Linked DNA regions of Homo sapiens. The protein of the gene in region 2 interacts with the protein of the main gene of each other region in a pairwise test. Each region holds a gene or a part of one and is shown on either strand. Other genes may lie near its edges.

Region 1 (5,043 bases), on a different chromosome or scaffold from region 2:
GCTGCAGTGAATGCTGAAATGAAAAAGAGAGCTATGGATATCAAGATGAAAAAGAGGTATGAAGATTGAAAAGAAATAGATCATATTTTTCACAATATGACCATCAAGAAAATTCAAAGGAAGAGACACATGGAACATTCAAATGAATAAGAGACTTCAGAAGACAGCATACAAAGACCACTGCAGCGAATACAAGAGACTTGTCACAGATGAGCAACTTAGAACATAAAATGAAAAATATACCATCCCCAACAGCATTTAAATCCAAAATATAAAGAAGAAGAAGCCTAACCAAAATATGCAAGACATTTACAGAAGCAACTGTACAAGTTTGCTGACAGATTCAGAGAAAAAATTCCCAAATAAATGGAGTAGTATATGATGTTCACTGATGAGGAATAGAATACAGCAAAGGTGTAAATCTTACTTAAATTAAATAAACAGTTAATGCCTACCTGTAGCTGCCAAAGTGACAATCAAGCCCAGGCTGCTGTGCTCTACTCCCAAAATCAACTGTGTAAAAATATAGAAGGGAAAAAGAAAAATAAAACAACAATATCAGCAACAAAGTCTAAACAACAAAACATAGAAAACCCTGGGGAAAAAACTGTGTTGAACTGGTACTTGTGTTCTGGGCAGTTGGAGAGGCAGGGAGGTTGAGGAGGTCTGCAGCCACTGCAGACGACAGGGTGAGTTGCAGGAAAAGTTTTAAAGGACCACCCCACATCAATGTAGGATCCGAGTCTGCACCTCAAAACACGAAGCCAGTAGCCCAGGGGTAATATCAGGACACCAGGAAAATTGGATTGATTGAGACACCATGGCTCCAGAATTCTGCTAATAACAACTAGAAACAAAGAGTAGGTTAGGACTACCTTCCAAAATACTATTATTTTAATCAAATATATATAATGAACTAGAAATAGAATAGTATGAGTGAATCACACATTGTATGAGTAGATATTGTTTGATAAAATAAGTACGTATAGTCGACATACATATATGTATAAATATATGTAAAGATATATACACATACATTCATATAATTACACATATATAATATAAACATATACATACATATGTGTTTATGCATATAAACATAAATATAATGCACATATACAATTGGCATAGATTTAAAATTCGTTTCTTACTATACGAATGCGAATTAAATTATGAAAATCACTAAAGTGGAATAGGAATTGTTAGGTAACTTCAAAACTCAGGACTTCCACAAATTTATTGCAGCTACTCAGTTTCTTCAGTGTAAAAATAAATCATTTAGTACAAAAGTTTTGCAAAATCCTCTTCTAGCTGGGGAAGAGCCCCCGTGGGAAGGTGTGCCTCTTCTCCCAGAGGTCACTACAATCTTAGGTGCTGCAAACCCACAGGGAGAATCTGGCCTGGGACCCGCAGCCATTCTCTGCAAGGGGTGCAGCTGTGCAAATGCTCAGAGGTGACAGAAACAGAGTATCTCCTAAAAGAGCCAAGAGTCAAGAAGAGGACCCTCCTGAGTGAGGACTGAGGGTCCACCCACACCACATAGAGGGGCCACATAATTCAGCTCAGACCCTCATGTCAGCCCTGAAAGACCCCAGCAGCCTTGTCCCCCCACCACACCCTTCCCCCCACTGCCACCTCAGGGGACTCGGAATCAGAACCTTGGTCTGAGGGAAGCAGACACCATCAGCAGAGTACGGAGCTCCAGGCTCTGCCAGATCTCAAAGTGAGAACCTTGAGGGATGACTGAACCGCTCCTCCCTCATCCCCCGCCCCACTAGAATCCGGTTCCGCCCCTGTTGTCCACCCAGGTGAGCCCTGGGTGGACGGATGTGACGCCACTGACGTGGCCGCGGGGATCAGAGAGAAGCGAGGGCCTGGTTCTGAGGGGTCGGCTTGAGATCGGCTGAGGGAAGCGGGCTCAGGGTCTGTGAGGAGGCAAGGTGAGACCCTGAGGGAGGACTGAGGAGGCCCCCACCCCTCATATAGGACCCAAAATAATCTAGCGCCGCCCCTGCTGCCAGCCCTGGACCACCAGGGGGCAGACTTGTCTGGCTGGGCCACCCCTCGCCAGCCCTGCGCTTAAGCCCCAGGGGAATCTGGAGTGAGAGCTTGGTGTGACCAGAGCAGGGCTGGTTAGCAGAGGGCAGGGCCCAGGTTCTGCCAGGCATCAAGGGCAGGACCCTGAGGGAGGGCTGAGGCTCCACAGAGCACATCTCTGCCCCTACTGTCAGCCCTGGGAAGCCCTAGGCATGGCGGCCGGGCATGGCGGCCGGGCATGGCGGCCGGGCATGGCGGCCGGGCATGGCGGCCGGGCATGGCGGCCGGGCTCGCTGATTCTGACGTCCGCATCCGGGGCTGATGCAGCAAAGGGGCTTCATGAGCACGGACTCAAGAGGAGCAGAGGGAGGGCCCAGGCTATGCTGGGAGATGAGGAGGCCCGAGGGGACCCAGGACCCCAGGACAGGGGGCCCACCCTACCTGTCTGAGACTGAGGGGCCTCCACATTTGGCCTCAGGAATCCGAGGGACTGAAACTCAAGTCAGCAGGGGGGTGGTGAACAGCCCTGCCAGGAGTCAAGGAGAAGAAGAAGAGGGAGGACTCAGGGGTCCTTGGACTCCAGATCAGTGGAGATCTCAGCCTTGGGAAGTCCCAGGATCTGTGGCTGCATGTGGCGCATCCTTGCTGCATTTTCAGGGTGTCAGAAAGGAGACAGCTGTGGTCTGAGGAGTGGAGTCTCAGATCACTGGAGAGAGGTGCCCCAGAGCCCTTAAGGAGGACTCAGCAGACCTCCCATCATGGCCTAGGAAACCTGCTCCCACTCTCAGGTCTGGGCACCCAAGGCAGGACAGTGGGGAAGGGATGTGGCCCCCCCACTTTCTGGTAGGGGGCCTCAAGGAGATGGTGGCCTTGGCATGCAAGACACATCCACGGTTCAGCAGGAAGGAAAGGGCCATGCCTTGTCGTGGAGTAAATATGAATACCTGGATGACACCCAGACAGAGAAAGACCCCATGAAACCTACTACTTCTGTCAGCCGTGGGAATCCCATGCAGGGTTGTCCATGTAGTGCCTCCTTACTTCTGCCTCCTGGGTCTCAGGGAGGTAGCAACCTGGGTCTGAAGGGCGTCCTCAGCTCAGCAGAGGGAGCCACACCTGTTCAACAGAGGGACGGGGTCACAGGATCTGCAGGACCCAAGATGTGCTCACTTTGTGATGAATGGGGGTACTCCTGGCCTGGAAAGAAGGGACCCCACAAAGTCTGGCTAACTTTGGTTATTATCTCTGGGGGAACCCGATCAAGGGTGGCCCTAAGTGGAGATCTCATCTGTACTGTGGGCAGGAAGTTGGGGAAACGCAGGAAGATAAGGTCTTGGTGGTAAGGGGAGATGTCTGCTCATATCAGGGTGTTGTGGGTTGAGGAAGGGCGGGCTCCATCAGGGGAAAGATGAATAACCCCCTGAAGACCTTAGAACCCACCACTCAAGAACAAGTAGGGACAGATCCTAGTGTCACCCCTGGACACCCCACCCAGTGGTCATCAGATGTGGTGGCTCCTCATTTCTCTCTTGAGATCTCAGGGAAGTGAGGACCTTGTTCTCAGAGGGCAACTCAGGACAAAACAGGGACCCCCATGTGGGCAACAGACTCAGTGGTCCAAGAATCTACCAAGAGTCTAGGTGACAACACTGAGGGAAGATTGAGGGTACCCTCGATGGTTCTCCTAGCAGGCAAAAAACAGATGGGGGCCCAACAGAAATCTGCCCGGCCTCTTTTGTCACCCCTGAGAGCATGAGCAGGACTATCAGCTGAGGCCCCTGTGTTATACCAGACTCATTGGTCTCAGGGAGAAGAAGGCCTTGGTCTGAGGGCACTGCATTCAGGTCAGCAGAGCGGGGGTCCAAGGCCCTGCCAGGAGTCAGGGACTCAGAGGACACCACTCACCAAACACACAGGACCGAACCCCACCCTGCACCTTCTGTCAGCCATGGGAAGTGCAGGGAAAGGTGGGTGGATGGAATCCCCTCATTTGCTCTTCCAGTGTCTCCTGGAGATAGGTCCTTGGATTAAGGAAGTGGCCTCAGGTCAGCCCAGGACACATGGGCCCCAATGTATTTTGTGTAGCTATTGCTTTTTTCTCACCCTAGGACAGGACACGTGGGCCCCATTGCATTTTGTGTAGCTATTGCTTTTTTCCCAGGAGGCCTTGGGCATGTGGGGCCAGATGTGGGTCCCTTCATATCCTTGTCTTCCATATCAGGGATATAAACTCTTGATCTGAAAGTTTCTCAGGCCAGCAAAAGGGCCAGATCCAGGCCCTGCCAGGAGAAAGATGAGGGCCCTGAATGAGCACAGAAAGGACCATCCACACAAAATAGTGGGGAGCTCACAGAGTCAGGCTCACCCTCCTGACAGCACTGGGGTGCTGGGGCTGTGCTTGCAGTCTGCAGCCTGAGTTCCCCTCGATTTATCTTCTAGGAGCTCCAGGAACCAGGCTGTGAGGTCTTGGTCTGAGGCAGTATCTTCAATCACAGAGCATAAGAGGCCCAGGCAGTAGTAGCAGTCAAGCTGAGGTGGTGTTTCCCCTGTATGTATACCAGAGGCCCCTCTGGCATCAGAACAGCAGGAACCCCACAGTTCCTGGCCCTACCAGCCCTTTTGTCAGTCCTGGAGCCTTGGCCTTTGCCAGGAGGCTGCACCCTGAGATGCCCTCTCAATTTCTCCTTCAGGTTCGCAGAGAACAGGCCAGCCAGGAGGTCAGGAGGCCCCAGAGAAGCACTGAAGAAGACCTGTAAGTAGACCTTTGTTAGGGCATCCAGGGTGTAGTACCCAGCTGAGGCCTCTCACACGCTTCCTCTCTCCCCAGGCCTGTGGGTCTCAATTGCCCAGCTCCGGCCCACACTCTCCTGCTGCCCTGACCTGAGTCATCATGCTTCTTGGGCAGAAGAGTCAGCGCTACAAGGCTGAGGAAGGCCTTCAGGCCCAAGGAGAGGCACCAGGGCTTATGGATGTGCAGATTCCCACAGCTGAGGAGCAGAAGGCTGC
Region 2 (4,448 bases):
CTGCCTGCTGAGAGTAGCTGGGATTACAGGTGTCCACCACCATACCCGGCTAATTTTTGTATTTTTAGTAGAGACAGGGTTTCTCCATGTTGGCCAGGCTGGTCTCGAACTCCCGACCTCAGGTAATCTGCCCGCCTCAGCCTCCCAAAGCGCTGGGATTACACGTGTGAGCCACCATGCCCAGCCTGTGCTCTGGTTATTAAGTTACATAGGTTTTGAGCAGCCAAACCTAACACTCCTTTTCTTGTAATTCCTATGTTGTTTTCAATGTATGATCTTCTGGAAATGGGTTTTTCAAAAATACGTTATGCAGAAATACATATTACATTGTAGCAGAGTTGCCTGCATATTTAAGATTTTATTATAACCTATTGAAATTAAACATTTATTAGTATTCCAAATATTTTATTAACTGAACGAAGTCAGCATAAGATTCCATTTTAAACTTTTGGCCAGATAGGTGGAAAAGCAGTCAAAATTAAGAATCAGAGTCAAAACACAAAGCTGTTTTTTTTTTTTTTTGAGACAGAGTCTCACTCTTTCACCTGGGCTGGAGTGCAGTGGCACAATCTCTGCTTACTGCAAGATCTGCCTCCTGGGTTCAAGTGATTGTCCTGCCTCAGCTTCCCGAGTAGTTGGGATTACAGGCATGCGCTACCACACCTAGCTAATTTTTGTATTTTTTTTTTTAGTAGAGACGGGGTTTCACCATGTCAGCCAGGCTGGTCTCAAACTCCTGACATCAAGTGGTCTACCTGCCTTGGCCTCCCAAAGTGCTGGGATTACAGGCATGTACCACCACACCGGGCCAAAATGAAGTTCTGAAATTTAACTAGTATCTTCTAAATGGTTATGTTTTAAAAAGCTCTTTTTGGTTTTAACTATTTAAAGGTATTTAATTTCTGCTTTAAAACTTCTGATTTTGTACTAGAATCTACCACAAAAGCAAGTATCATTGCTATACTCTATTTTATGTATTATAACTAAGCCTTTTACCAACTCCTGAAATGTTTCTGTTACTGGTTCAGCTCATTTTTTAAATTTTCAGTGCACTGTGTGAAACTTCCGCATGCGTAGGAATCTATGTGAGGTACTTAGAGGGAACCTATTTGACTTAGCTTCAATTTATGCTTAATCGTTGTTTCTGGAAACTTAAGCCATTTTTTCACTTGTCCTGAAATACCTCTAGGTTGGACAGCATTGTAAATGTTAATATCTTTGGTCTTAAGCATTTTGCTAACCAAGTGTTTATTCAGCTTTTGTTTTTTTCCCCTTTCCATTTATTCTAATGTTCTATTATTGCTTTAACCTTTCGTATTTTAAACTTATTTTTAATGATGAAATCTTTTGAGTGAATGCATGCTCAGAGATATACTTGTATACTTTAAACATAAACTAAAGCCAAGGCATCATATTGCTGATCTGTCTGTAGACTATTCCAAGCCTGGATTGTTCTATGCCTTAAGCGCCTGTGTCTATATTTAGACTCTAGGCAAGAAAAAGAGAGAGCAAATGCTCATGCTAAAGCTGTCAGATGTAAGTCTTTGGTTCTTCCAGGTACTTTATATCTGTATTTTCCTAGCCAGAAATCCTGATTTTGAAATTATGAATGTACATTCAGAGTAAAAATTAGAGTTAAAATGCTACAAACAGGGCAAAGACACCTTCAATAAATATTAAGTGAATTAATCAGTCCTTTTCTGGAACTTAAAATCTTGTAGAATACTCAAATAATAATTTTATTTTATTTTAAAATGCTTTTGTGCCAAGATATTTTATCAAATTTCTAAAATATAATTTTTTAGTTATATAATAGTCTAACATAAAATTTAAAAAATTATTTATTAAGATATGTGCTTGAATGAATGCTAACTTTAGGAGATGATAAATGGCTGCTGATGGGGGAAAAAAACAATCTTCTAATTAGTTTTGCTTTTTAGAAATCATTGGTAATTTTAACCTTTCTCCTAGATGCCAGGATAGAAGAATTTGTTTATGAGAAACTGGATAGAAAAGCTCCAAGTCGTATAAACAACCCAGAACTTTTGGGACAATATATGATTGATGCAGGGACTGAGTTTGGCCCAGGAACAGCTTATGGTAAGTGAAATGCAAAAAGTTCTAATAAGGGATATCTTTATGTTTAGATTTATTAGAGATGTCATTAACATATTAGTAGGCCGGGTGCAGTGGCTCACACCTGTAATCCCAGCACTTTGGGTGGTTGAGGTGGGCGGATCATGAGGTCAGGAGATCGAGACTATCCTGGCTAACATGGTGAAACCCCGTCTCTACTAAAAATAACAAAAAATTAGCTGGGTGTGGTGGCAGACACCTGTAGTCCCAGCTACTTGGGAGGCTGAGGCAGGAGAATGGCGTGAACCTTGGACGTGGAGCTTGCAGTGAGCCAAGATCACACCACTGCACTCCAGCCTGGGCCACAGAACGAGACTCTGTCTCAAAAAAAAAAAAAAAAAAAAAACATAGTAGTAGAATTGGTTTTAACTTCAAATTTATGTTAAAAATTTTTGATGAAGTGAGAAATATAGGCAAATATATACAGTTAAATGTAATATTTAATATATTCAAGCATATATTTAGTTATTCAGAGAATTCACATCTTTTTTAGTTCTAAAAAGTTTAATGAATTCTTCACTTGTTCTCCCAGTGATCTTACAATACCTATGTTATAATACTTGTGATATTGCAATTATTGTTTGCATATGTCTCTTCATTTTTAAAAAAGCTTTCTTAGGGCTTATTTTATGTTAAAGGTACTTGGCACGTAGTTCTTGAACAAATCAGTGCTTTTGTTATAATTTTGCAGTAATGTCAGTAACCAAAAAATATTAACAATTGTTATCTCTGGATATTTGGATTACATTTCATTTCTGTTTTTCTCTTATGTATTTCAAATTTTCTATAGCCGTGGTTTAGTTACACTCGCTTTATTAGTTGCTGTACAGACTTTAAATGTATAGCCCTGAAGCTCAAAGTTACATACACATCTTTATTGTCACTCTAATTTTCTCATAACATGAGACTGTTACAGATTTCAGTAGCTTCTTTTCCTGTTGTTTATGTCTAATAATAATTCTCTTTATACATCTGCAAGATACTGGTCTTTGGATATGAAATGGTAGGTAGATTAAATTAATTTCTACACATAGTTCTGATTTACAGAATGGTTTATAAATTCTAGGATTAAATGAATTTTAAGCTTTAGTAGTTATCTTTATGTCAGAAAGAAATAACCTAAATATTGTTGAATGCCACTAATCCATTGACAGGCTTTTTTAGGTACACAACTTTGAAACTTCTACATTGTGTTCTTCAAAATCTAATTTTTAAGTTTGAAAATGCTTAGAACTTCAAAATAAAATTATTTCTGAATTTTACTGTTAATTTTTAGAAAAATGTTATACATTAAACAGATGTTTTATTGCCTACTTGTGCCAAGCTCAGTTAGATGCTGGGATCATAAAGGTATGTGAAAGGAACCCAGCAGCCCCTTCCTTCACCAGGCTGAAGAAGGTTTTAGCAGAGCATGAACATTAGTAAAGGCTTCTAGATTTTCTTCCCTTTTAAATCTGCTTAATCTGTTTGCACCTCTAGTAATTCTAGTGAATGTACCCTGGTTATTAGAATTGGGCTTTGTGAACCTATTACCTTATTAGTAATTAATACTAAAAATTGAGTATCACAGGCATGGGCTAAGCATTATATAGTATATATATTTACATATTAATTCTCATTTATATCCTGCTTTTAAGATAAATTATATTACCTTCATTTTAAAGACAAGGAAACAGGTTTGGAGAAGTTAAATAATTAATCCACAGTCACAGCTAGTATAGTAATTCAAATGAAGATCTGTCTGTATCCAGTGACGGAGCTCTTAACTACTATCTGTATTACCTTCCTTATCAGTCAGATCAAAGCTTATCCTAACATGAAGGGATTAAGATCCTTAGAGCTAAAGCTTATTAGAAGTAAAACTAGGAGTGGAACCCTGATCTTGGGGCTTCCTTTCTTTCTACTCTACTTTGTACTGTACTTGCCCTATTTAAGTATCAGAGTATATGTATTGCAAAAGCATGGATTTTTTAACTTAAGATATCACTATGAACTATTACTTATAGATACTTCAGATGATAACTGCAAGGATGTAGAAACAGGACAAATTGTGACTTGATCTCTTGGAAGCATTATACTTTTATAAGTATAACCACAGTCACCCCTCGATATCCATGGGGGATTGGATCCAGGCCCGCCACCCTGAGGATACCAAAATCCATGGATACTCAGGTGTCATATAAAATGGCATAGTGTTTGCATATAACCTATGCACATCCTCCCTCGTACTTTAAATCATCTGAATGTAAATGCTGTGTAAATAGTTGTTATGCTGTATTTTTTAGGAAATAATGACAAGGGAGAAAAGTCTG
Region 3 (4,448 bases), on a different chromosome or scaffold from region 2:
CAGGCTGGTCTTGAACTCCTGACCTCATGTGATCTGTCTGCCTCAGCCTCCCAAAGTGCTGGGATTATAGGCGTGAGCCACGCGCCTGGTCTTAGATGGAATTTTGAATGAAGATGATGCTTGGCTTGAACTTCATTCTTTAGGCTGTGAGGACTCATTTAATTCATGACATTTAAAGCTGTACATATTGTCATGACAAAAAGAGAAAATGACAAAAAATAAAAAAGCTATGTAATAGGTTTCTCTTATATTTTCCTTCTTGAAAGATTACACTCATAGAAGATTGGAAGGGGAAGTCAGAGAGATAGCAGGGAGGTAGAGCATTTTAGCAATAATTTGAGTAAAAAACAATAAAAACTTGAACTAAGAATAGTGTTGCAGGAAGGGTAATTTAGTTTCTTTGACTTGACTGCCAGAGGTGAATGGTAAAGGAGAAGTAAGAGTTTAGGATTGACTGGCCATTTACAAAAATAATTATAGAGTGAAAACCATAATGAAATACCACTTTTTACCCACTAGGATTCCTATAATCAAAAAGATAATAACAAATGTCAATGAGGAAGTAGAGAAATTAGAACTCCCATGCACTACTGGCAAGAAGGTAAATGGTGCGGGTGTTTGGAGAAGAGCCTGGCAGTCCTCAAAAGGTTAAGCATAGTTACCATAGGACCCTGCACTTCCATCCTAGGAACCTAACCAAGAAAACTGAAACACATGTCCAGAAAAACTCGAACACGAGTGTTCACAGCAGCATTTATTATTCATAACAGCCAAAAAGTAGAAACAGCCCAAATGTCTATCAGCTGATAAATAGAAAAACAAAATGTGGACCCATATAACGGAATATTATTTGGCAATAAAAAGAAATGAATTACATGATATTGTTTTCTAAAGAAAAGAAAGAAATGAAGTAGTGATACTTGCTACAACATAGATGAACCTTGGAAACATTATATTAAGTGAACAAAGTCAGTCGTAAAAGGTGACATAGTGTACGATTCCCTTTATATGAAATGTCAAGAATAGACAAATCCATAGAGACCGAAAGTAGGTTAGTGGTTCCCTACTGCTGGAGGGGAGGTGGGGGGGATTGAGGAATGGTTGCTAACTGGTACTGCGTTTCATTGTAGGGTGAAAAAATACTCTAAAATTGATTGTGGTATTGATTGTACAACTCTGTAGACATACTAGACAGAAACCATTAAATCGTGCTTTTCAAATAGGTGAATTGTATAGTAGGTGAGTTATAGAGATGTTATAAAATTATTATAGGGGAATAGTTTTATGTGACTGACCTTACATATATTCAGCTTTTCTTGAGGTATACTTGCTACACCCAGTTAGATAATTAGTTAAACCAGTCCAGGGTTCAGCAATGAGCTTAAGGGCCTTGGAAGTTACTGTATCAGGATGATAGATAACATGATAATGAATGGGTTAGTTTTCCTACGGAAAATATAGTTAATGTTGGAGATTAGGATAACATCAAAAGTCAAATTAAGGAAAATGAAAACTAGAAAGTGACTGAGAGAATGTTCAAGAACCAGGGGAAAACAAGAGTACCACAGATGCCAGGGGAGGAAAATGTATCCAGCAAAGTGTTGTCACAGTATTAGTTGTCTTGGCCCAGAGGGGTGACTTCAGGTAGCTGAAAGTACCCAGGAGAATAAATATGCTATCCAGACCACTTGTGGACACAGTTGTAGCATCCTGCTAGGGAGAAGCCAGTTTCTAGGAGAATAAAGGAATACCTGAGTAGTAAGTAAATAGAGAAGATGAGGGTAAATCAGTTTTTCAGAATTTTAGGTGCATGGCCTCAAGAAAAAGGAGGTAGCTAGAAGTATATGCATTGTTTAGGCAGCTTAGTTTTGTTTGTTTGGTTTTGGTTTGGGTTTTTTTTTTTTTTTTTTTGAGACAGAGTCTCACTCTGTCGCCCAGGCTGGAGTGCAGTGGCTCACTGCAACCTCCGCCTCCCAGGTTCAAGCAATTCACCTGCCTCAGCCTCCCGAGTAGCTGGGATTACAGGTGCGTGCCACCAAGCCCGGCTAATTCTTGTATTTTTATTAGAGATGGGTTCACCATGTTGGCCAGGCTGGTCTCGACCTCAGGTGATCCGCCCGCCTCAGCCTCCCAAAGTGCTGGGATTACAGGCCAGCCATACATTACAGTGGGCCGAGCCACTGTGCCCGGCCCAGGTAGCTTAGTTTCATCTCTAATGAACACTGAAATGAAAGAAAAAAGTAACAAGCAAAAATTATATGGGGAAAACTAAGAAACACCGTGGCAAGAGGAAAGTAAACATTAAGTACATAACTGGCTAAAGGATAAGAACAGACATTTCACAAAAGAGGAAGGACATACAGGTTATATCCATGGAAAGTTGTCACCCCAAAAGCATTTAGAAAAGTGAATTAAACCAGATGTTATATATGAAATTTAAACAGCATCAATAAAGGAAAATGTTCATCCTGAGGAGGCAATGAAATGGCCATCTCAGATTGCTGATGGCAGTATAAATTGATACAATCCTTTAAAATATGGTTTGATAATAGGTATTAAGCCTAAAAATCTTCTCATTCTAAAATAAATGGTATGTTTAAAATGACATGAGAAGGTTAAAAATGTAAAGATCCTGGATTAGTGATAACTTGATTTTTTTTAAAAAGGAAAATGGATCTTATATAGTGGTGGTAGAATTCTGTACACATATTTAATAGCATGTTTTTAAAGAAAAATGACTTGGAAAAAATCCTTATTACACAGTAAGTACAGAAAACATTGTAAAATAGTAATACTCTATGAAATTTTTATGCTGAATTTTGTAGTGTTACAAGTTTTGATGTTATTCCTTTTTTTTTTTTTTTTTTGAGATGGAGTTTCGCCCGTTGCCCAGGCTAGACTGCAGTGGTGTGATGTTGGCTCATGGCAACCTCTGCCTCCCGGCTTCAAGCAATTCTCCTGCCCCAGCCTCCCAAGTAGCTGGGATTACAGGCATGTGCCACAACAGCCAGCTAATTTTGTATTTTTAGTAGAGATGGGATTTCTCCATGTTGGCCAGGCTGGCCTCAAACTCCTGACCGCAGGTGATCTGCCCTCCTCGGCCTCCCAAACTGTTGGGATTACAGGCGTGAGCCACCACGCCCGGCCCTCGGTGTTATTCTGGCCCTGATTCTATTTTAGTAAATAGATTTTACTAGCAGATAGGGATGGGTTGGGAAGAGGAACCTTAATTATAGAAAACCTCATACATAAAACATTGAAGGCACGGGCCTTGCCTGTCATATATTCACTGCTGTACTTCTCTGTCAGATGTGTGCCTGGCATGCAGTAGGCATTGAAAAAGTATTTGTCGGCCAGCGCAGGGGCTGTTTCCTGTAATCCCAGTTTGGGACCAGCCTGGGCAATATAGTAAGACTATATCTCTACCAAAAAAAAAAAAAAAAAAAGCCAGGAATGGTGCCATGTGCCTATGGTCCCAACTACTTGGGAGGCTGAGGTGGGAGGATCACTAGAGCCCAGGAGTTTGAGACCAGCCTGGGCAACATAGTGAGACCCCCATCTCTACCAAAAAAAAAAAAAAAGTCAGGTTAGCCAGGCATCATGCCATGTGCCCATGGTCCCAGCTACTTGGAGGGCTGAGGCAGGAGGATCGTTTGAGCCTGGGAGGTCAAGGCTGCATAGAGCTGTGATCATACCACTACACTCCAGCCTGGGTGACAAAGTGAGGCCCTGTCTCAAAAAACCAAAACAGCAACAACAGACAACACCAAAAAATAAGAATTTGTTGAATTAAGAGAGCAATGATATTGATTGGTAGATACAAACTTTGATTCTGATTACCCAGAGTTCATAACAGCAGAAATACTGATGTTATGAAACGAAAAATAAGATTTAGCATTATATTTATTCACAAATTTGTTAGACTATATAGGATAAGTTAGGAATGAAATATACATAAACATTGTCACTACTCAAATTCCTTTCTAAAATTTCTTCCTCAAAGTATGATTTTTAAAAAAATTTACGGTGGGTAAATGTTACCATAAAAGATTAGTTTCACAATAGGGATTATTTATATGATGTATAAATGAATTAGTGGATTAGGACCTTTTTTTAATGAATAAGTAATATTTTACTTTTTTGCTAAACTGCTTAAATAGTTATGTCAATACATGTCTCCTAAAAATAAGGATGTTTTCTTATTAAATGTGTTTATAGAAAGGAGGCCTCTTGAGTGTCGTATATGTTGATGAGTTTTCATTGGCAGTATGGCATGTTTGTTTTGTGAATTTGAATATACTCCTTTCTCAGAAAATACAATTTTGGCTTTATATGATTGTAAAAATATATTTCTTAGGAATAGTCTCTGGGCCTTTGACTATTACCAATTTAAGTCGGTAAGTTAGTGGGGAAACTAGGAGGCCATTACATAGAAACTCAGTTGCTAG
Region 4 (4,448 bases), on a different chromosome or scaffold from region 2:
AGTCCAGACTCAGGGAACTACTGGATTTTCTTAAAAATCATTAACCTTGCTCCTCCCTCTCCGTGGGCCGTATCTGCCCCCCAAAAGCAGAGCTTAGGTGAGATACGAAGAGCAGGAGAAGCATGTGGAAAGAATACCCAAGTAGCTGGGATTACAGGCACCTGTCACCAAGCTCAGCTCATTTTGTATTTTTAGTAGAGACAGAATTTCACCATGTTGGCCAGGCTGGTCTTGAACTCCCAGCCTCAGGTGATCCGCCTGCCTTGGCCTCCCAAAGTACTAGGATTACAAGCGTGAGCCACCACACCCGTCTGGTTAAGTTAAATATTAAAAGCTGAAGCCGGGCACGGTGGCTCACGCCTGTAATCCCAGCACTTTAGGAGGCCGAGGCAGGTGGATCACAAGGTCAGGAGTTGGAGACCAGACTGGCCAATATGGTGAAACCCCATCTGTACCAAAAATACAAAAATTAGCCGGGTGTGGTGGTGCGTGCCTGTGGTCCCAGCTGCTCGGGAGGCTGGGGCAGAGGAGTCACTGGAACCTGGGAGGCAGAGGTTGTGGTGAGCCGAGATTGTGCCATTGCACTCCAGCCTGGGCGACAGAGCAAGACTCCGTCTCAAAAAAGAAAAAAAAATATTAAAAGCTGATAGAGCCAGTGCCCTTATACAAAGGCTGGAATGTAACAGAAGCCCACTGAGAGTTTTGCCCAGGCCTTTCCTGGGCCTTGAAGCATGACAAGATAACGAAGGAATCGATTAGGACCTGTTTAGGATTAAACAAGTTTTATGGGGGTCTGAAGGAACTCCCAGGCCTCCACAAACAAGTTTATTGAGGGTCTGAAGGAACTCCGCAAACCTTAATGATTTAGCAGGAGAGACAAGATAAGGGTAATCACCCCAGCACCCGGACCCATCTAGATTAGGTAAATTTACTGAGGCACCAGAGGAAGGTCTTAAAACTCAGACCTTAGTTATAGATTTGAAGAAGTTAATCACTTATGTTTTTAGATGAATAATGCACACCTATACGTAGACGTATAGCTTAGAAGGTATATAAGCTCTGGAAAACTTTGTAATTTTGAGTTGGTCTGGAGATATTTTCTAGGCCTTCTCCCTGTACGCAGAAATAAAAATTCGCTTCTTTCCCAGTAAATCTGCATCTCGTTATTGGGCCGCAAGAAGCAGCAGCCGACCCTCCGTTTGTTCCGGGAACAGAATCATCTCATCTAATATTTTGAGACTTCTCTCTCAAGACTGATATCCACTGCCTCTGTGCTTCTAGTTTTCAAGTATCCAACATGTGTGGTCCACTGAGTATTTCTCTATCATCACCCTCTACACCATGTCTACACCTTTAGGCTCCAATAAATGTCCTTGGCAAACTTTCAGGATGAGACTCCTCAGAACCTCCCAGCTGTTGTGGATTCCTCTACTTCCACACCCCAATTGCTCTGGGTATTAATTGGATATATGCTGTTATCTCCATTTGTCATTGATTAACCAAAAGAGTAGCAAAGAGGCCAGTGAAAGAGGACCCTGAATACGAGGTCATCTCAGGTCACCATACTGAAGATAAATAATTTTTGTAAATCACTTATTATGTCTATTTATACATTTGATGAAACAGTCATTCACTCTGCTGATAATAAGAGCAATCATTGCAAACGTACAGTGCATGGTGAGATTTGTTACACTGCACATAAGGTAGTCAGAGCAGGTATTTTTGATAATATAACATGTAAGGAGAGAATTTAATAAAATCGTACTAACATCAGAGAAACATTTCATGCTGAGAGAAGAGCAAATGTGAAAGCCCTGAGGCATAAGCTGTTTGGTGATTTTAATACTGAGGATGTGTTTTGGCGTGGGAAAGAAAAGCCAGGAGAGATGATGGGTCACACAAAGATCTTGGTAGAAAAGACCTCAGTCTGTTTTCTATTCATTGAAAGTAAAGAAAAATGATAACCAATGCACAGATAAGAACAGAATTTGTCATATGACATGAACTGGCAGTAAAGTATTTAAGGTGATTATGAAAAGCCCTTATTACCAGGTAACCAAACACCTTTTCTTATTTCTCCCCTTTTTTTGTCCTTAATTATTTTCATCTTGCCCATTTTCTAATTGTGCACAATCAATATCCTTTCTATTTCTACCTTTCTTACTTGGTCCCATTTTAACCTTCCCAATCATGCAGGGATCTGTGAACAAGAGGAACCTCAGCAGCCAGGACAGGCAGGAGCAGTGGAATAGCTACTATGGCTTCTGGAATCCTGGTTAATGTAAAGGAGGAGGTGACCTGCCCCATCTGCCTGGAACTCCTGACACAACCCCTGAGCCTGGACTGCGGCCACAGCTTCTGCCAAGCATGCCTCACTGCAAACCACAAGAAGTCCATGCTAGACAAAGGAGAGAGTAGCTGCCCTGTGTGCCGGATCAGTTACCAGCCTGAGAACATACGGCCTAATCGGCATGTAGCCAACATAGTGGAGAAGCTCAGGGAGGTCAAGTTGAGCCCAGAGGGGCAGAAAGTTGATCATTGTGCACGCCATGGAGAGAAACTTCTACTCTTCTGTCAGGAGGACGGGAAGGTCATTTGCTGGCTTTGTGAGCGGTCTCAGGAGCACCGTGGTCACCACACGTTCCTCACAGAGGAGGTTGCCCGGGAGTACCAAGTAAGAGACTGGGATGGAAGGAAGAGAGGGCAGAAAATGGGACCAGATGGAAAATTTTCACTTTGCCTTTGACATTAACTGCCTTGTCATGATAGACCTGAGACCCGGGATTATTTTTTTCATGCTATGCTTAACTTCTGAGGCTTTAAGGATGGTTTTTTGCATTTCACCCAATTACAGGAGAATAATCCTAGAGTATATATTCCTGGCCGGGAGTAAATATTTTGTACCTTGGGTTAGATGGGTAGAGATTTGGTGTCCAAGAAAAGCTCTGATTACCCCTTTCAGCAGGAGAGTAACAGGAGTGGGTTGAGATGTAAGTTTTTTCCTTGCTGCAGGATTAGTTTTTTCTTCTAGGACAAAAAGAATCAGTCTACTCATGGTGAGGAGATGGGGAGGTCTATTACCTGAGATGTAGGGAGCACATTCACCAATGTAAGTTTTCTTCCAAGTCATGGATTCTCATTGCCATTCTCACAGTTTCTGCAAATTTGTTTCTTCTGAGATCAACCTGATTTATTTCATGTTTATACTCTATCTAGGTGCTGGAAAACCTCATAGCTTGACTATGGTGTGATTCCTTTCTCACAGGTGAAGCTCCAGGCAGCTCTGGAGATGCTGAGGCAGAAGCAGCAGGAAGCTGAAGAGTTAGAAGCTGACATCAGAGAAGAGAAAGCTTCCTGGAAGGCAAGAGGATGTGGTTCCCGAAGGAGTTAGCTAGAAATCTGGGCAGGACCAGGGGAAGGAGCTTTCTTCCTCTTTATTCCCTGACATTTGATAAGTCCAGAAGTCATTTGATTAGTCCTCTTCATCCTTTCCCTGATGGGGTGTGGTGGCTGAGGAGTGAATATGTCACAGTGAACACAGTAGGGAGCTCTTTACATGAAGGATCTCTCTGGTGAGGATGGCTAGTGAATCCTGCATTCTATTTTTGTGCTACTTTTTGAGTCCGTGACTCTACTTGGGGAAGACATTTGGCAATGGCTCATGATTCTGTCCTCAGTGTTCAACTTTTGGCAGGGAGTTTGAGCTTGGGCTGAGAAGTAATACAGGCAGGCATGAGTGTCCTGCATAGCTGTGTGAAAGGTAAGCTACATCCAGGTAACCCATTTTGATGCAGGATGAACCTCAATATACCCATTCAAGGTCATTGTTTTAAAATGTCATGAAGGAAAAGAAATAGGAAAAGGCAGCTTTCCTAAGACCTACTCTCCTGCTACTATGTCCCCTCCTTGTGAGAACTCCCCAAAAGAAACAGCTCCTTTTCTGGCTAACAGCCTCTGCCTGGTAGACTGAGTGCCCCTTTCTCTTCTCTTATCTCTGAAGACTCAAATACAGTATGACAAAACCAACGTCTTGGCAGATTTTGAGCAACTGAGAGACATCCTGGACTGGGAGGAGAGCAATGAGCTGCAAAACCTGGAGAAGGAGGAGGAAGACATTCTGAAAAGCCTTACGAACTCTGAAACTGAGATGGTGCAGCAGACCCAGTCCCTGAGAGAGCTCATCTCAGATCTGGAGCATCGGCTGCAGGGGTCAGTGATGGAGCTGCTTCAGGTAAAAAGTGGAAAGAAGCCTGAGCACTGAGATTAAAGAAAAGTGAAGGCTATTTCCTTCTCTGCGTTGCTGTGCTTTTTCTAATATTAACAATGTTCTCTGCAGGACCGCTTTTCTGAATCAATTGCTGAAGTTATAAGAATAATTGAATGTAGAAGTAGCAAGAGATAATCCCATTTTTATTAATTTATCCAGAGCAGTAGAAAAATTTGACGTA
Region 5 (4,448 bases), on a different chromosome or scaffold from region 2:
ACTATAATTACAATTAATATAAAAACATGCATATCAACAAGATTGAAAGGGAATGTATAACTTCAATAGTTGTTTCATAAGAGTAATACAATTTGTCAGACTTTTTGGTCCTTCTAAACTTTTAGTAATATCATATTACCTATATGATATAACAAATTCTTTAAAATATTTTTTAATTTTAATATCTAAAAAATTTTGTTATATTTTTATTACATTTTCCCAGTGAACAAGTATTTAACATTTTGTGGCTTAAGTATTACAATTAAGAAGACTATGCAACTTACAGGGAAAAAATCAGTTTCTCTGTCAATCCCATAAGTGCTGTTGCAATCACTGTTCCAAAGATGACAATTCCAGAATAAACATGTATGGGCATGAGAAATGCTCGGAGAGAAAGCGGAGCCCATGGAAGCAGAAAGACTGAAAAACCTGAAAGAAGCTAAACACCAAAAAGTGCAAAGGTTATCATTTAATTTTAAGTTCTAAACTAATTTTAAATTATTTAAAAAGCAATATGTGTAATATGACAAAACCTTTCATATAGAACCAAAGGGTAGAAAATGAAGTTTCCTCGCTCCAGTTCCACTACCTAATGTAACCCCTTTTATCACCTTCTCATGGATCATTCCAGAAAATTTATTATCCCTATACATATTGTTCTGCATCTTGCTTTTTTCCCTTAACAGAATATCTTGGAAATCTTTTTCATACCTATACATTTACCTAATTTATTCCTTTTAATGGCTAATATCCTAAGGCTATAACAATTTATTTATACAGTTCTCTATGGATGTTTCTGTTTGGTTTTTGCTATCCTTAATCCGACTATAGTGAACATTCTGGTACTTACTTGTTTGTTTTTACCAATCTCCTAAGGTTGCTAAGTAGGAAGGGAAGGAAAAGATTTTTTAAATCACTAAAACCGAGTACATTAGGACACAGAATTTAGTCAGTTCAACCTAAAAAGCTATGTGGAATGAAGTTGATTTTTGTTTTATGAGAAAGAAATGAATTCTGCAGAAAAGGTGTCTTCATTTCCTTGATAATGAAATCGCTAGTGGGATACCTCTTTGCAGAGAAGACAGCAAGGTTCCTATATAAACTGAAGTCTGTTGCGCTTTCACGGTTTTGTCACCCCACACGTTTGCCCATCAAGTATCCTCTCTTCAACAAGATAAAGATGACTTTGTGGTTACTGAATTACTGAGTTTAAAGGAACATTTTTTTTCAGATGCCTATTTAGGATCTACCATCCTAGCAAAACAATTATGAAAAGAGAGGAGAGTGGGGAGAAAGCACTAACATCACTGTTCAGCTTTCTTGATTGAGATCCAAGGGCTAATGGGGAGACAGAAGAAGGGAGGCAGGGGGAGGGGTCCAACGCCCTAATTCACACTGAGAATCAGCTCATGTGTAATACCAAGTAGTAATAAATGGAAACTGATAACAAAACAATTTGTATGATTTGTCACTTTAACAGACTGCAGAGGAAAAATCATATAATCATCAAAACAGATGGTGAAAAACATTGGTAGGATTCAACAGTCATGTATGAGATGTTTTAACAAACTAGGAATGGAAGATGATTATTTTAATCTGATTATATTAGGACAGAACATGCTATAGGAACTAACAGGCTCCATTTTCAAGAGCTTAACATATAAAAGTATATTTCTTGCTCACACACAGTCTGCTTATGGTCTATAGGCATTTCAGAGTAGCTCTCTTCCAAGACATGACTCAGATCTAGAAGGGATTTGTCTTATATCCCTTATCACCTATTCCTATTCAGCATTTTTCTGAAAGTCTCAGCTACTGAGTTAAGCAAGAAAAAAAAATGATGATAGAAAAAGAAACAAAACTTATTAATCACATAAGATTATAAAACACAATCCAAAAGAATCTTGAGATTAATTACTAACATAAGTTTATCAAGTTTGCTAGGTATAAATTTATACTTGAGATCAGTTGCACTTTTTGTAAAGAGGCAACAAGTGAATTAATTTTTAATGATACCATTTTTAATAGCAAGGAGCTAGCAATAAGTTGGAGACAACAACTCTACAAAGAAAATATAAAGCTTTGCAATATTTTGGAGAAGGCTAAAAAAACAGGCTCAGGATAATGAGTTGGAAGACTTGTATTATACAGATGTCGGTTCTCAAATTCATCTATAGATTAAATAAAATCCTAATAGATTTTTGGTGGAATTTGATGCATTGATTCTAAAATTTACATAGATCAAAGGGCCAAGAATAGCCAAGATTAACTGTTGTTTTCTGAAGTATATCCTAATACAATAAATTCTGTAATTTATATTTAAAAAGTAATAACAAATGCATTTGATAGGTTGGTTTGCATATTTTATTATTTAGTTAATAACCAAAATGCCTGAATATATTAGAAATGGTTCAGAGGGTTCCCTCTTGGTGGTTCAGAATATTCCTAAATCTTCTTCAGTGAACTTCAGTGATTCTATTAGTATCAAAGGGCAAGCTTCCTGATGTCCATGTTGTGCTTTCTATATGAAAATGGGGGCTGAGTGTGGTGCCTCACGCCTGTAATCCCAGCACTTTGGGAGGCCAAGGTGGGAAGATCACTTGAGTCCAGGAGTTCAAGACAAGCCCGGGCAACATGGCGAAACCCCATCTCTACAAAAAATTAGCTGGGCATGGTGGTGCACGTCTGTGGTCCCAGCTACTGTGGATGCTGAGGCAGGAGGATTGCTTGAGTCCTGGAGATGGAGGTTGCAGTGAGCTGAGATTGTGCCATTGCACTCCAGCCTGGGTGACAGAGTGAGACCCTGTCTAAGAAAGAAAAAAGAAAAGAAAGGAAAAGAAAATGGGGCTCAGGGATATAGCACAAATATATCTCCATAAATCATCATATCTTTTCTGTGGCTTACCCATAGAAACATATATTTCTCATTCCTGCTCTCCTATTTTCATTCCTAAGATTCTTTCTGTTTTCTCTCATTTCCTCCATAATTTGTCATGTGTGTCTCTTACAATCCTGTAGGGCTCAACAGTCTAAGCAGGTAGGAGGTCAGAAATTTGCTTACAGGATCCCTGAGCAACTTAACTACCCTAAATCTGACTTTCACCATTAAACATTTTTTGCAACAAAAGAAAATTACATTTAAAAGGAAAAGAAAAACATTACAGAATGCTTAACTTTGATTAAAAGTGTTCTGAATGCTGCAATAATGCATATTTATAATTTATAATAACTTATAATTTATAAATAATCATTATTTCCTTTTAACTATCTTAATCTTACTACCTTACAAGTGAAGGTGATAATTTATAACCTAGTGGACCGAAAATTATAAGACCTTTTGTCTCTCTAAGTCAGTACTGGAAGTGCTGTTCACAGAAGGCATGCATTTAAAGGGATGCCTGCTGTAATCCCAGCACTTTGGGAGGCCGAGGCAGGAGGATCACTTGAGATCAGGATTTTAAGACCAGCCTGGCCAACATGTCAAAACCCCATCTCTACTAAAAATACAAAAACTAGCCAGGCATGGTGGCACATGCCTGTAGTCCCAGCTACTCTGGAGGCTGAAGCAAGAGAATTGCTTGAACCCGGATGGCGGAGGTTGCAGTGAGCTGACATTGTGCACTTCAGCCTGGGTGACAGAGCAAAGCTCTGTCTCAAGAACAAAAACAACAACAACAAAAAAATAAAAAATAAAAAGATGCCTGGGCCACATTCTGACCTGCTAAATCCAATTTCTGGATTAGGGCCCAGGAATCTGTATTTTTAACAAACTGCCCAGACGATTCTTACGTATGTTGAAGTTTGAAAATGACTGCTGTTGATTCACTCAAATTATTCTAGAGATATGGATAAACAGTCTGGAAAACCCTCAAAAGAGAAGGTAGTGGAATATTCCATTATATATAGTCTACAAACACACTAAATGCCAACTATATGCAAACAAAGTGCCCCAGTGTTTAGGAATCATCACCTACAGGAAGCTGTTCTTCAACACAGTGGAAGTTCTTAAGAGCTAAGGAAAAATAAACTTTCATAAAAAGTTATTACTTAGAGATGAAAGTGAAAATACAGTATGACCCAATTATGTTTAAAAATTAAATATCTATATCTACATTTGCATAGGCATAATAAAAGCCTAAAGGGAATAAGCCAAAAGCTAATGATATCTCTAGATTATGGCAGTATCAGTGGGTTTTTTCATTTTTTGTTTTTTTATTTAATTTGTAGCAGCAGCAGAGGTTCTACTCCTTGTGGAACAGGAATACCCCACAGGCAGTGTGCCCAGAATAGCCAGGGTTTTTTCTTTATATCTTTCTACATCTTATAAACTTTAACATTAATGTGTATTACTTTTATAATTAGAAATAGACAATAAAAGTTTACTTTTAAAGTTTCCATGTTGGCTGGGCACAGTGGCTCATGTCTGCCATTCCAGCACTTTGGGAGGC
Region 6 (4,448 bases), on a different chromosome or scaffold from region 2:
CAGCACTTTGGGAGGCTGAGGAAGGCGGATCACTTGAGGCCAAGAGTTCAAGACCAGCCTGGCCAACATGGTGAAACCCCATCTCTACGGAAAATACAAAAATTAGCCAGACAGTGGTGTGCGCCTGTAATTGCAGCTACTCGGGAGGCTAAGGCACGAGAAACACTTGAACCTGGGAGACTGAGGCTGCCATAAGCCAAGATCACACCACTTGCACTCCAGCCTGGGCAACAGAGTGAAACTCTGTCTCAGAAAAAAAAAAAAAAAAAAGGAACCCCAAGAGTACAGTATGAAAAGGGGGAAAAGCTGGTGGATCCTCTCATATGGGGATAGTAGGAATACTTTCTGGAAGGCTACTTGACAATCAAGAGGCTTAAATATATATATGTGTGTGTGTGTGTATATATATATATATTTTTTTTTTTTGAGACGGAGTTTCGCTTTTGTCACCCAGGCTGGCGTGCAATGACATGATCTCGGCTCACTGCAACCTCTGCCTCCCAGGTTCAAATGATCCTCCTGCCTCAGCCTCCCGAGTAGCTGGGATTACAGGCATGCACCACCATGCCCGGCTAATTTTGTACTTTTAGTAGAGATGGGGTTTCACCTTGTTGGCCAGGCTTGTCTCGAACTTCTGACCTCAGGCGATCCGCCCGCCTCGGCCTCCCAAAGTGCTGGGATTACAGGCGTGAGCCACCATGCCTGGCCTAAATATGTATATTTTTGCTTTGTCTTAGACAAGTGTGCAAAGCTGTATATAAATGGCTAGTCACTGCAGAGTTGTTTGTAAAGCTGAAAAAATAAACTGCTAGATGAACATTCTGTGTAGATGCTAAGAATTGCTTGTAGGACAGACTATTTGGATCAACACTCTGAACCTGCAGTCTATTAAGGCAGTCACTTCCAACTAGCATCTGGTGATCTAAGGAAAACTTTCAGTCTCTGCCACTTTCTAAGAAGCTTCTATCTTCGAATTAGAGAAGACATTCAACTATACCATCTCTCACAAGCCTTCTTGGTCTATAGACATGCAATTAAAATGGTTTCCAAGAATGTTAGTGCTCCAGTAATATGATGTGTTTCTAAAAGTCTTATTGAAGGGACGGTCTTCTAACCATTGCATTGGTTGAAACAATGGGTTGGAGGAGGACAAGTCACACATAATAAATACATCCCACCAATCTCTTAAAAAAACAGTATCCAAGGCCAGGCGCAGTGGCTCACGCCTGCAATCCCAGCACTTTGGGAGGCCGAGGCAGGCAGATCATGAGGTCAGGAGATCGAGACCATCCTGGCTAACACAATGAAACCCTGTCTCTACTAAAAATACAAAAATTAGCTGGGTGTGGTGGCAGGCGCCTGTAGTCCCAGCTACTCGGGAGGCTGAGGCAGGAGAATGGTGCAAACCCGGGAGGCAGAGCTTGCAGTGAGCCGAGATCGTGCCACTGCACTCCAGCCTGGGTGACAGAGCAAGACTCCGTCTCAAAAAAAAAAAAAAAAAAAAAACAACAAAACAACAACAACAAAAAAATAGTATCCAAGTATTAGCCATTAAAAATTTTTAAAAAAGATACTGCTCACTGCATCCATGAAGGAAAAGCAAGAAACAGAATGCTAAAGTCACATTAAAAGAACAACAGCCGGGCATGGTGGCTCACATTTGTAATCCCAGCACTTTGGGAGACCGAGGTGGGTGGATCGCTTGAGCTCAGGAGTTCAAGACCAGCCTGGGCAACATAGCAAAACTCCATCTCTACTAAAAATACAAAAAATTAGCCAGGCATGGTGGTGCATGCCTGTAGTCCCAGCTACTTGGGAGGCTGGCGTGAAGAAATCACCTGAGCCCGGGAGGTCAAGGCTGCAGTGAGCCAAGATCGCACCACTGCACTCCAGCCCAGGTGAACAGAGTGAGACTCTGTCTCAAAAAAAAAACAAAAAACAAAAACAACAAAAAAAACTTGTTGAAGTTGAAGAAATCTCCCAGAAAATAGACCAAAAAGATAGAAGTGGAAAATTGAAAAGATTATTAGTGTTCTACCAAATCTAAGAAAGAAAAAAAAAAAATTATTAGGCCAAGCAGTCAGTGGCTCACACCTGTAATCCCAACATTTTGGGAGGCCAAGGCAGGAGGATTGCTTGAGACCAGCCTGGGCAACATAGCAAGACCTCATCTCTATTTAAAAAAAATTAAAAATAAGTCTAAAACTGTAAAATAAATAAAGAAAGAAAAATTAGACAACTGGTCCAGGAGATCCATATAACTGGAACTACAGAAAAAAAGATGGGAAAATTAAAGAGCAGGATATCATTAACTAAATAAATATAAAGAAAATTTCCCCAAACTGAAAGGGCCCCTTGAGTTTCCAGCACAGTGGATGAAAATAGGCCCACAGTAAGGCACATCACTGGGAAAAATCAGAATACTGAGGACAAAAGAAAATCCTATAAGCATTAACTGAAAGGAAAAAAAAAAACCCACACATGTAAAGGTTCAGAAATTAGAATTACTTTAAACTTTTAACAGCAACACTGGAAGTCAGAAGACAATGGAGCAATACCTAAACACAGCTATTAATAAATTATCAAACAAATGTGAGGATAAAATGAAGAAATTTTCAGACATGCAAAGTCTCAAAAACTATAGTTCCCATTCTCATTTTCTACGAAAGCTATTGGAGGATGTGTCCACCAAAACAAGAGAATACATCAAGACATAGGATAGGCCAGGTGCAGTGGCTTACACCTGTAATCCCAACACTTTGGGAGGCCAAGGCGGGTGGAATGCTTGAGCCCAGGAGTTCGAGACCAGCCTGGGCAACATAGCAAGACCTCCCTATTATACAAAAATACAAAAATTAGCGGGCATGTGGCACACGCCTGTAATCCCAGCTACTTGGGAGGCTGAGGCAGGAGGATCCCTTGAGCCCAGGAGGCAGAGTTTGTAGTGAGTGAGATTGTACCACTGCACTCTAGCCTGGGCAACAGAGCAAGACTGTCTCAAAAAACAAACAAACAAACAAAAGACATAACATACAAGAAACAACCCAAAACAAAAAGGGAATATCCAGAAGGTATTGAAGAGAGATCCCAGGGTGAGAGCCGTATACCAGGCCTAGAAAGCAAACAGGACAGATGACTCTGGGACCAAGTTTGCCCAGACGGTTAAACTGATGAACTATTTGATACATACGACAATGAAAGGTGATTTACACAACTAGTAGTTGTCTAAAGAAATAATACTGGGCCAGGTGCGGTGGCTCACACCTGTAATCCCAGAACTTTGGGAGGCCGAGGCGGGCAGATCATGAGGTCAGGAGATCGAGATCATCCTGGCTAACAGAGCAAAACCCTGTCTCTACCAAAAAAATACAAAAAAGTTAGCCGGGCTTGGTGGCGGGCGCCTGTTGTCCCAGCTACTTGAGAGGCCGAGGCAGGAGAGTGGCGTGACCCTGGGAGGCGGAGCTTGCAGTGAGCTGAGATCGCACCACTGCACTCCAGCCTGGGTGACAGAGCAAGACTCTGTCTCAAAAAAAAAAAAAAAAAAAAAAAGAAAGAATCCTGGCTGGGCGCGGTGGCTCACGCCTGTAATCCCAGCACTTTGGGAGGCCAAGGCGGGTGGATCGCCTGAGGTCAGGAGTTCGAGACCAGCCTGGCCAACATGGTGAAACCCCATCTCTACTAAAAATACAAAAATTAGCCAGGCATGGTGGCAGGTGCCTGTAATCCCAGCTACTTCGGAGGCTGAGGAAAGAGAATCGCTTGAACCCAGGAGGCGGAGGTTGCAGTGAGCCGAGATTGTGCCATTGCACTCCAACCTAGGCAACATGAGCAAAACTCTTGTCTAAAAAAAAAAAAAAAGAAGAAGAAAAGAAATAATCCCGGCCGCCCGTGGTGGCTCACGCCTGTAATCCTGTAATCCCAGCACTTTGGGAGGCCGAGGCGGGTGGATCAATAGGTCAAGAGTTCTAGACCAGCCTGGCCAAGATGGTGAAACCCCATCTCTACTAAAAATACAAAAATTAGCGGGGTGCTGTGGCAGGCAGCTGTAGTCTATAATCCCAGCTACTTGGGAGGCTGAGGCAGGAAAATCACTTGAATCCGGGAGGTGGAAGTTGCAGTGAGCCAAGATTGCGCCACTGCACTCTAGCCTGGGCGACAGAGCGAGACTCTGTCTCGAAAAAAAAAAAAAAAAAATCCCAAACTTCCTAGTAGAAATAATGGCCAAAACCTTCCCAAACATGATTAAAGACATAAATTCACAGGCTCAAGAAGTTCAGTGAACTCCAAGTAATCAATCTCAGTGAACTCCATATAATGAATGATCTAACACAATTATGAAAAAAGGGAAGTAACTACACTCAGACGATTGAGGGAGAGGGAAGAAAGCATTCAGGTATGTGAGATTTGGGGAAGTATAGGGAAAACAAAACAGGTCAATAAATGACAGC
Region 7 (3,653 bases), on a different chromosome or scaffold from region 2:
TTAGCATAAAGACCTTAAAGTTTTCCTGTTTCTACAATAATGCTATCCAAGTAAAATTTAAAAGATCTGCTACTTTCCCAAAAATAAACTACACCGTAACTATAGTGCTGAACTTTAACCACTAAACAGGTATAACTTTAGTTGTCAAAGTGATTAGAAAGCAACCACACAAATCAGCATATGCTTACATACTATGTAAAAGGACTAAACGAAGTTACAATATTCCAACTCATGTTCCCTACAGTACAATTTTATACAATTCCTTAAAACTTAGTGATTATTTTGAGCCCAATAATCCCATGAAATATGGAAATTAATCCCTCTTGAAGGAATAATTTACTCGTGTTTTTTATTCCGTACCTGTTATGTTATTTTATTTATTTATTTATTTGAGACACAGTCTTGCTCTGTCACCCAGGCTGCAATGCAGTGGCGCAATCTCACCTCACTGCAACCTCCACCTCCTGGGTTCAAGTGATTCTCCTGCCACAGCCTCTCGAGTAGCTGGGACTATAGGCATGTGCCACCATACCTAGCCAATTTTTATTTTTAGTAGAGATGGGGTTTCACCATGTTGGCCAGGCTGGTCTCGAACTCCTAACCTCGAATGATCCACCCACCTCGGCCTAGAGTGATCTGCCCACCTCAGCCTCCCAAAGTGGTGGGATTACAGGCATGAGCCACCACGCCCGGCCTTATTTTATCCTGAATTATTAAAGGCCCCTGTTCCAACTGACTAACGTAAAAATGTTATTCCGGTTCACTAGGTCCTTAGACCTTTTATGTGCTCTGCTGGTTTATTGTTTTGAGGAAATGATGGAAAGATCATCCTTTTCTATTTCTAAATAGTTCTCACCAGGGATAATTTTGCCACCACCTCTTTCCAGGGGGACATTTTAGACGGTCATAACTGAGAAAGGGGGTGCTACTGGCATCTAGCAGGAAGAGGCCAAGGATGCTGCTAAAAGTCCTACAACGCACAGGGCAGCCCCCAAGACCAAGAATTATCCAGCCCAAAATGTCAGGAGGACAGAGATGAGAAATCCTGGTATAGTGGTTAAGAGGGAAAATTATGGGAGACTAGACTACCTTAGTTCAAATCCAACTCCACTACTTACTATGTGAATGACCCCAAGGAAGTTGACTTCTGAGCCTCAGTTTCCTCATTTCAAACTAAGGGATAGAGTACCTAACTCACAGGAATACAGTGAGAATTATGTAGGAATACGTGCTTAGTTAAAACTTAAAAAAAAAAAAAAAAAGACTGTAGCAAGTTAAAGTACGAAAGTAACATGCAATCATCCCTTTTAGTTTGTACTCCTTTTCAAATATTAACAGATATACTGACATCCTCCACCTTCTATTTAGTATCTCCCTCTATCAAGTACCAAATGTAACTGCTCTAATCACATTATCTAATATAATCTCCTATACTTACATTCTACTTTAATAAATTAACCATATATCGTCTTCTGAAAGAAATAAAAAGAAGTTATTTTACACTGTTTAGTATATCCAGGTGTTTGAAATATAGAGCATTAAAACTAACTCTTTTTGTAGTCTTCCTTCATTTACACTATCATCAAACCTACAAAGTATATTTTCTTTGGTCCCAGAACAAGCATGGGTCACTTGGATAATCACATAATCCAGAGCTATTACATAATTTTGTCTGATCCCATTTTAGAACTGAAGAAATTGAGGTTCAGAGCTTGCCAACTTGTCCAACTGGACAATTAACTGCAGAAACTAGAACTTGATCAATTCCCTGATTATGAAGTAACAGAAATATGTAGAAGCATCCTCTTCCTTTAAATTCCAAACAGGGCAATCAACAGAAAATTAACCTTGAATAGTATTGACAGTGATTATTGCTCTCACATTCAAGAACAATTACCCCTCTTCTAGGAAATCAGTAACTAACTTTTTAGGAGCTAACTTCAATTCTTACCCAACTAAGTTTCCTTCAGTCTTAAGCAGATACCTATTTACAGATTCTCTAAAAAGGTCTCCCTAATTAGTATAACTCATTACACACCTACTTGTTTTCTTATTGCACTACTGTGTTATAATTTTAATACTCATTTCATTTTCAAAATCCATCCATCGAACATGAAATTTTTGGGGTGGCAATGAGCACTACTGGTGAAGAAACAGTCTATCATGAATAGAGATTTAGTATTTCCTATCTCTCAGAGAAAAAACTCTCCACCCTTTAACAAAATGTATTAAGATATTTGGACAGCTAATATTTAAGACATTTTCAGAAGAACATTCTGTAAAATACAAAGAAAATATGTGAGATAGGCCAGGCATGGTGGCTCACAGCTGTAATCCCAGCACTTTGGGAGGCAGAGGTGGGCGGATCACCTGAGGTCAGGAGTTTGAGACCAACCTGGCCAACATGACGAAACCCCACCCCTACTAAAAAAAAAAACACAAAAATTACCAGGCATGGTGGCGCCTGTAACCCAGCTACTCAGAAGACTGAGGCAGGAGAATCTCTTGAACCCGGGAGGTGGAGGTTCCAGTGAGCCGAAAGAGTGCCACTGCACTCCAGCCTGAGTGACAAAGTGAGACTCTGTCACCCAATACAAAACAAAAAAAAAGCTAGACAGATTTTTCATCTTGCCAATTTACCAAAATTCCAGTTATTTACAATTCTGATTATTTTCACAAATATGGTTCATAGTAAGAGTTCAATAAACACTTAGATCACTGGTGTTTCCCTATGACTCTCAAACGTTCAAGTCTTCTTTAAAGAGATGTTATGCATTTAACAAGTCTGATCAACACCTGTTATTTTCCAATTAGTGTATAAATATTAAAATTTATACAATTTTTAAGTATACAAATTTCACTCACATTTGATTTTTTGCTGCTTGCCTCTGAGCTTTTCTTTCTTTCCTTTTCTGATCTGGTGGCTTGGCAAAAACAATTTCAATATTTTCTCCCTCCAAGTCTTTGCCATTCATTTCTTCCATAGCCTTAAAAAATTAGATAAGTCAATATAAAAATAGGACTTTCATACAATTATGATTCATTTAAAGTTGGAATATCATTTATCATTAATGTGGGAAGGACAAGAGAAAGCCCCATGCAGGCAGTCAAATAATTTTATTTAAAGATGCAGATATTCAATTATTTTTCATTTTTACTTAGAAAACTGCCAACATCACTAAAACCAAAAGGTTTTAGTTTGAATGGATTCCATGGACTTCCAAAGTCTCCTCCAATTTGTAAAACTATTTTGAGATTCTAAAATGACTAAATTTGTTAGTCTGATTTAGATGCCTGTAATTCCACCATATTTACCTTGACAGCACCATCTCGCTCATCAAAATGAATGAACGCATAATCTTTTAACTTCTTCACTCGTTCCAGTTTCCCAAACTGACTAAATGCCTTTTCTAAAATCTCTTCTGTTACAGTATTGGCAAGGTTGCGTACAAACAGCACTTTTACCTAGGGGGAAGAAAATACCCCCCTGTATTATTTCCAAAGAGTTCCATTTCTAAGATACCACCACCCCACCCTACAAAGTTAACTCAAATCACAATCCATTAGAAGAATGTCAGAATATAAAAAAAAAAAAAGTTTTCAACTCCTTGGGTAAATATCAAGCAGCAGAACTGCTGGATCATGTTGAAAGA

The links.
Region 1: the proteins of SH3GLB1 (region 2) and MAGEA8 interact in binary tests that used the Homo sapiens proteins (3 or more experiments, as listed by UniProt).
Region 3: the proteins of SH3GLB1 (region 2) and UBE2G1 interact in binary tests that used the Homo sapiens proteins (3 or more experiments, as listed by UniProt).
Region 4: the proteins of SH3GLB1 (region 2) and TRIM5 interact in binary tests that used the Homo sapiens proteins (3 or more experiments, as listed by UniProt).
Region 5: the proteins of SH3GLB1 (region 2) and CYBRD1 interact in binary tests that used the Homo sapiens proteins (3 or more experiments, as listed by UniProt).
Region 6: the proteins of SH3GLB1 (region 2) and FUNDC1 interact in binary tests that used the Homo sapiens proteins (3 or more experiments, as listed by UniProt).
Region 7: the proteins of SH3GLB1 (region 2) and SYNCRIP interact in binary tests that used the Homo sapiens proteins (3 or more experiments, as listed by UniProt).

The regions. Positions count from the first base shown.
Region 1 is NC_000023.11:149,879,346-149,884,388, forward strand, and holds the start of MAGEA8 (melanoma-associated antigen 8), read left to right. Parts: upstream 1-1,837; 5' UTR 1,838-1,940; intron 1,941-3,022; exon of another isoform or gene 3,023-3,153; intron 3,154-3,725; exon of another isoform or gene 3,726-4,004; intron 4,005-4,476; exon of another isoform or gene 4,477-4,727; 5' UTR 4,728-4,789; intron 4,790-4,864; 5' UTR 4,865-4,927; coding exon 4,928-5,043. UniProt on the Homo sapiens protein: Not known, though may play a role in embryonal development and tumor transformation or aspects of tumor progression.
Region 2 is NC_000001.11:86,717,536-86,721,983, forward strand, and holds part of SH3GLB1 (endophilin-B1), read left to right. Parts: intron 1-1,971; coding exon 1,972-2,100; intron 2,101-4,448. UniProt on the Homo sapiens protein: May be required for normal outer mitochondrial membrane dynamics. Required for coatomer-mediated retrograde transport in certain cells. May recruit other proteins to membranes with high curvature. May promote membrane fusion.
Region 3 is NC_000017.11:4,289,778-4,294,225, reverse strand, and holds part of UBE2G1 (ubiquitin-conjugating enzyme E2 G1), read left to right. Parts: intron 1-4,448. UniProt on the Homo sapiens protein: Accepts ubiquitin from the E1 complex and catalyzes its covalent attachment to other proteins. In vitro catalyzes 'Lys-48'-, as well as 'Lys-63'-linked polyubiquitination. May be involved in degradation of muscle-specific proteins.
Region 4 is NC_000011.10:5,677,987-5,682,434, reverse strand, and holds part of TRIM5 (tripartite motif-containing protein 5), read left to right. Parts: intron 1-2,196; 5' UTR 2,197-2,257; coding exon 2,258-2,674; intron 2,675-3,265; coding exon 3,266-3,361; intron 3,362-4,000; coding exon 4,001-4,231; intron 4,232-4,448.
Region 5 is NC_000002.12:171,549,337-171,553,784, reverse strand, and holds part of CYBRD1 (plasma membrane ascorbate-dependent reductase CYBRD1), read right to left. Parts: intron 440-4,448; coding exon 285-439; intron 1-284. UniProt on the Homo sapiens protein: Plasma membrane reductase that uses cytoplasmic ascorbate as an electron donor to reduce extracellular Fe(3+) into Fe(2+).
Region 6 is NC_000023.11:44,532,144-44,536,591, forward strand, and holds part of FUNDC1 (FUN14 domain-containing protein 1), read right to left. Parts: intron 1-4,448. UniProt on the Homo sapiens protein: Integral mitochondrial outer-membrane protein that mediates the formation of mitochondria-associated endoplasmic reticulum membranes (MAMs).
Region 7 is NC_000006.12:85,615,953-85,619,605, forward strand, and holds part of SYNCRIP (heterogeneous nuclear ribonucleoprotein Q), read right to left. Parts: intron 3,466-3,653; coding exon 3,316-3,465; intron 2,988-3,315; coding exon 2,866-2,987; intron 1-2,865. UniProt on the Homo sapiens protein: Heterogenous nuclear ribonucleoprotein (hnRNP) implicated in mRNA processing mechanisms. Component of the CRD-mediated complex that promotes MYC mRNA stability.